2 separate regions of the Homo sapiens genome follow, and region 1 is linked to region 2. Evidence: fine-mapped expression QTL. A gene starts in region 2. The other region holds a variant in brackets. All regions are shown on one strand. Distances are between the middles of the regions.

The links. PIP is the estimated chance that this variant, and not a neighbour inherited with it, causes the effect. A credible set is the group of variants that fine-mapping cannot tell apart.
Region 1: its variant is the best candidate, but not a certain one, in a credible set for the expression of ETV5 in whole blood (TOPMed, PIP 0.68).

The regions. Positions count from the first base shown.
Region 1 is chr3:186,150,446-186,153,348 of GRCh38, reverse strand. All of the region lies in intron 24 of DGKG (diacylglycerol kinase gamma), which reads left to right. Among named protein-coding and RNA genes, the nearest start is that of ETV5, 43 kb to the right of the region's middle. The variant A/G (reference allele first, on the strand shown) is at 1,698.
Region 2 is chr3:186,107,793-186,110,695 of GRCh38, reverse strand. It overlaps ETV5 (ETS variant transcription factor 5), which reads left to right and starts at 1,607. Exons shown (of 13, transcript NM_004454.3): 1 at 1,607-1,756. RefSeq lists silencers at 1,295-1,924, 1,955-2,054 and enhancers at 1,088-2,066, 2,825-2,884.

The DNA of each region.
Region 1 (2,903 bases), 43 kb before region 2:
TATCAGGGTTTGAAAAGGCAGGCTTAGCCACATCCAACTACCTCCTAAAATAGGATCATAACTATTTTACCTGCTAGCCCCTAATTTGAGGGTAAGGGACTGATATCTCTTTGACTGGAAATGAGGATATGATTTCATACTTCTTTCGGTTCTATAGTAATAGAATCCACAAAGCTGACCAAAATATTATGTTACCCAGGAGCCCCAGACTCCTACCCTGTCAAGACCTTTGTCAGAACCGCTGAAAAACAAGCAGGAGAGATTTGAGTTTTACTTCCTCTTCCGTGCCCTGGAGGTACTAACTAGCAAATAAATAGCTCAGCTAAAGGGATAAAAAAGAGAAGCAAGGGTCTTGTGTCATCTAAATAAAAAAAAAAAAAAAAAAAAGGCCGGGCGCGGCAGCTGGTGCCTGTAATCCCAGCACTTTGGGAGGCCGACACGGGCGGATCATGAGGTCAGGAGATCGAGACCATCCTGGCCAACATGGTGAAACCCCGTCTCTACTAAAAATAAAAAAATTAGCCAGGCATGGTGATAAGCACCTGTAGTCCCAGCTACTCAGGAGGCTGAGGCAGAAGAATCGCTTGAACCTGGGAGGTGGAGGTTGCAGTGAGCCGAGATTGCATCACTGCACTCCAGCCTGGGTGATAGAGCGAGACTCTGTCTCAAAAATAAAAAAATGTGGGGGAGGGGCTCTACCAGCGGGAAATGTAGGCACCAGCTACCATCCTCTGCTTCCAACAGAGCCATCTCCACTGCCAGCACGTAGGGCTTATCAGTCAGTACTTCCACAGTGTGTTGTACCCTGAACAGGCACTGCACTGGCTCAGAGAGTGCCGTGGTGAATAAGCTGAAGTCCTTCCCCTCATGGGCATGGGAGATCAGGAGTGAGAGAAGGCTGACCACAGGGGAACATGCCACAAACGTGTTCCACAGGGGAACAAAGAATGCTACATTGCATGCCACAGATAAGTGCTGTCCGAGTCTCCAGTCTCCAGCCTATGCCTCGCTTCCGTGCGTCCTGGGATAAACATAATGCCCACAATAAGACACACAGCACAAAATGATGTTGATGCATTCTCGGTTTTCTCCTCTGGTGACTATCAAAAAACAGAGACTCTCTCCCCTTTTAGGTCTCTGGGCTGGTGGAAGCCAACATAAGGATCATTTTCAGCTTTTAGCACCAGGTTATGCTAATTGTCCACAGTGTCTTCTGGTTCTATCCTTCCCTTCCATTTCCTGGAGCCCTTTATTTTTATTTTATTTTTTTGAGATGGAGTCTCTCTCTGTCGCACAGGCTGGAGTGCAGTGGTGCAATCTTGGCTCACCACAACCTCCGCCTCCCGGGTTCAAGTGATTCTCCTACCTCAGCCTCCCACGTAGCTGGGATTACAGGTGCCTGCCACCACCTCCAACTAATTTCTGTATTTTTAGTACAAACGGGGTTTCACCATGTTGGCCAGGCTGGTCTCAAACTCCTGGGCTCAAGTGATCCGCCCATCTCAGCCTCCCGAAGTGCTGGGATTACAGTTCCTGGAGCCCTTTCAATGTAAACCTGGCTTACAGTAGTGCCCTCTTAGCCAGGCACTCACTACCCCAGCTCACCTTGACAACAGCTGTTAAATAATTTCCCTCAAACTCTTTTCTTTTGTGTCATGTTATTCTCCAGCACAGAATGCCATCTCTCATGCTTCCTC[A/G]TTTCTTCATGTGAACCCAGTCTTTCTGCCTCCCTTTAAAACCCCACACCAGCTGCCCCACCTGTGTCCATGACCACATTTCTCATAGTTTGCCCTGAACTCAACCTGCTCATCTGTGACTTCTCTACCCACTCCCTTTTCATCAACACATTTCCTTTCCTTCCTTCAGATTTTAAAATTCTTTCCTCCTTGTTCCCATCAGACTTTTCTCATTCCATGCCCACCTTGTTTTGGACACCACTTGGTTTAGCCGACATTGATTTAAACTCGTTGATGGTTCTGTGTTCAAGAGTTCTGTTGTTCCCTGCGGTCACACTGTCATTTCCTATAATGTGGTAAAAACCACAAGAATGAGTTCATAGGTTCTGTTTCTTTTGACATCCATCTTTCTCCTTCTCTTTCTCCATAAGACAAGGATTTTACTAACTGTTACTTTCCATTTTACAGTTTACAGTGGGCTTTCATTGACAATCTATTCTTTGATCTTTGTGAGGAAAATAAGACAAATGTTATCCTCCTCATTTACAGTTCAGTAAGCACTGGCTCTGAAGAGTCAATGATTCATCTAAATGTTCACAGCAAAGAAGTGGAAGTGTCTGGACTCAAACCCAGGTCTTTGAATTCTAATTGCTTCCTGTTCCCACTTCATCGTCCTACTCTGAGCATTATCATACTTAATAAATATTGTGGATGGATAATGTAGATTATTAAGGTGGCAAGGCCACACTCAGGTAGGAATTAACTATTTCAAAGCCATGACCTGAGGATAAGGTTGGGAATAAAGGCAAAAATGAGAATACATCAGTGTCTTTCACTTCTGATTGACTTAAAGTTTACAGGAGGAAACACTTATAAACCCTAAAATTTAAAGAAAAAAAAGTTTTAAAAAGAATTTGGGGTCTTCCCTCGAAGGCCAAGAAAAGAGGAAATACATAAGGCACTCAATTGGGAACTCTCCACATAATGGTGCTTGGTCAGAGGTCAGACCAAAGCCTCGGTCACTTGATTGACATCTCAGCACTGCCTTGGCAGGAATGACCAGGAGCAATGGAGGCTGGGAATCTGAAGAACTGGGCTCTAATTGTGCTGCTGCTCTGTTTGTGAACTTAGGCTACTCTAATGGGCTCCTGCAGAGGGGTCGATTGAGTCCCTGAGGTCTCCTCTGGCTGTGACATTCTGAGAGTCTGTGAATACCAAGAACACAAG
Region 2 (2,903 bases):
GAGTACTTTCCATCCATCAACTCATGCCCATTTCAGTCTTCCAAAGTCAACAGCTCCAGCGTGCCTGGTCAGTGCTGAGCCCAGGACTCAACACGGGTGCTGCAGGTTGCTTAGGGGCACGCCAACATTTCAAGGGCTATAAACGACAGACCAAGTGTCCGCTCTGTTTAAGAGACACAAGTGGAGATAGGAAAGAACCTTTGACTTAAGTGTGGGGGTGGCAGGGGCAGGAACTGCCCCAGAGTTGGCCACCGTGGGACCCCCATTGCTAGGGGCTCTCTCCTGTCACTTAGCATCTTTCCTCCCCACCGCTGGCACGCGGCGTGAATGGCAGGGCACTCCAGCAGGACGAGAACAGAGCTCCGTCACAGGCCCCCAGCATCCCCGGAGAGAAGATAGAGCCGCCCCACGGCCTTCACAGGAGGGGGTAAGGGGGCGGAGAGGGGAGAGGATTGTTTGTTTATTTGTTTCCTGGAACACCCTGTTAAGAATCTCAGCAATTGCAGTTAGTGCCCTATCGTTTGGCAAGCAGAGCCGCTTCTCGTCGTTCCCAGCTGCACGGGATCTAATTCGCAAATACACCATCTTGCATTCAATACTTAAATGGAAAACAAGCAGCCCGGGGAGGGAGGCAAAAAGTCTGAGTCTGCATGCCCGTTTCGGAGGGATTTAGGTTTCCAGGTCGGTGGACTGGCTGCTGCTGTCCCCGGAGAGGATTTCTTTGAGCCCGAACCCTGTCTCACCTCGACTACAGAACCCACTCTGGCGGAGGTTACGAGCCGCAGTTAAAGAGAAAACGGGATTTGGTTGGGTCTTAGGCCTTGCCAGTACAAAATAGTAACAAAAATCTGTTTGAGAGCTGAGATTTTAAAAGGAGATGCTGCTTATTCTTCCCACTGGAAACCTGGTTAAAAGAAATTAAGGCCTCTCTTAAAGGTAACTAAGATTAGAGGGCTCGGTTTCCGTTTTCTGTGTTTCTGTGGGCTAAACGCCCAGGTCGGTCAGCGAGTTTGTGTGGAATGACGAATTCCTCTCCCCTGAATTCTAAAATGATAACTTTGCTTGGTGCTGCAGCTGCGAACGTCTGGCGCCAAGAGACCCAATTCTGGTCGGGGCTTTGCTGGATGGAGAAGTGGGGGTGAGTGGGTAAGGGGGAAGAGTCGTGCCTCGGTGAAAAGTCGGGAGAGCGGCGAGAAGGGAAGTAACGGCGGCTCCTCCTGGCCTCGGCCCCTTTAAGTGCTTCACTGACTCAGCTAAGCTTCCCCCTCAGGTCGCGTTTTTTATGAATGAAAAACGTCCTTACATTCATTATATAAACAAGCCTGTGCTGATTGGCCAATGGCCCCCGGTGCATAAATTATGTAAAACAGACCCCTGAGGGGGTGGAGAGAGATGCACCGCTGGCCAATGGGGGCCGGAGTTGATGGGGCGGCTTGGTTGGATTTGCCCGCAGACAGGGTAAACAAGAGGTGATGGACAGCCGCGGGAACGGCCTCTGGCCAATGGGAACAAGGCTGGGCTAGGGCCGCGGGCCAATGGCGGCGGGCGGAGCAGCGAGCCGCGGGGGGCCGGGCCAGCGCTCCAGCCTGGTTGGCAGCTGCGGCGCAGAGTCCAGCCGCTGGTGCGCGGAGCGGTTCACCGTCTTCGGAGCGGTTCGGCCCAGCCTTTCGCCCAGGCGCCCAGGCCCGCTGCGCGCGTGCGTGAGCGCGCCTGCGCCGCCGGGGCCGCTGCAAGGGGAGGAGAGAGGCCGCCTCAGGTGAGGGGGCTTTGCGGGGGCAGGGGGGAGATCGGAAGGGGCGTCCGGCCACTGGTCCGACAGGCCCAGCCGGCTAGAGTTCACGGGCTGATTCAGAATCTTCAAAGTCGGGGTGCAGTAGCTGGGGTGACCCCCCCCGGGTTGACCGCCCCCTCCCCCCGCGGCCCGGTCCGGTTTGGTTCCTGGGAGGCGTCGGGCGGGTGCGGCTAACGGTTCCGGAGCGCGGGGAGAGCGGCTTTCCACACGTCGTGGGGGAGGCGCCCCGGAGCGCGAGTGCGGGGGCTCCCGAGTGGATGGGGGATCGCGGAGTTGCGAGGCTTTCACAGTCTCTGGAGATTCGAGAGCCCCGAGGGGACTTGGAGGCTCGCGAGAAGAGACGCTTGGCGGAGCTCCGCAGTTGGGAGGAGGGGGCGGGAAGCAGTTTGAGGGGAATGTCTGAGAGGCGCTGCCCCCCAGAGCACCGGGAGGGGGTAAATGACACAGGCAAGTGCAGCCTGCGGGGGCGGGGGTCGACCAGGAACTTACGCAGGCCTTGCAAGTTTCAGGTGGTGGAAAGTGGACATCCAGTCGCCCTGCTCCCACCCAGCAGGCTGAGGGCGTCCGGCTGTGCGGCGACTCGAGAAAATCGGGGCGCACCGGAACAGCGGCCTGGGGATGGTGGGGATAACACGGGTGTGGAGGGGACAGCACCGAAAGATGCTGCAGCCTCGCAGCGGATTAGGGTTCCGGCCGCATTTTCAGAGGGTGGAGAAAACTCGGGGGGGAACCGAACTCCTGGTCGACGAGGGGGTGCCAGGGAGAGATGTTGGGGGTGGGGGGATTGGAAGCGGTTGGTAGCGCCGGGCGCCGCACCTCGTTTTTATGAATGTGGGTGACTTTATGAATGAAGCGGGTTTCTTTCGTTGGCTCGCTGCTCCCTGCGGCTTTTTTTTTTTTCTTCCCTTTTTGTGAATGAAGCATTGAGCTTTCTTCCTAAAACGCTGGGGTGAGGGGCCTGCGTCGGAGGCTGGGCGTGCGTTGGAAATGGGGGCGGGGGCGCAGCTGAAGGAGTTTTCATGAATGGGGAAGGCTGAGAATTGGGTGGAAGTGTGTCTTGTTTTGTGAATGGGGCCCAGCGCTAGAGATCCAGTTACAGCCTCTACCTGAT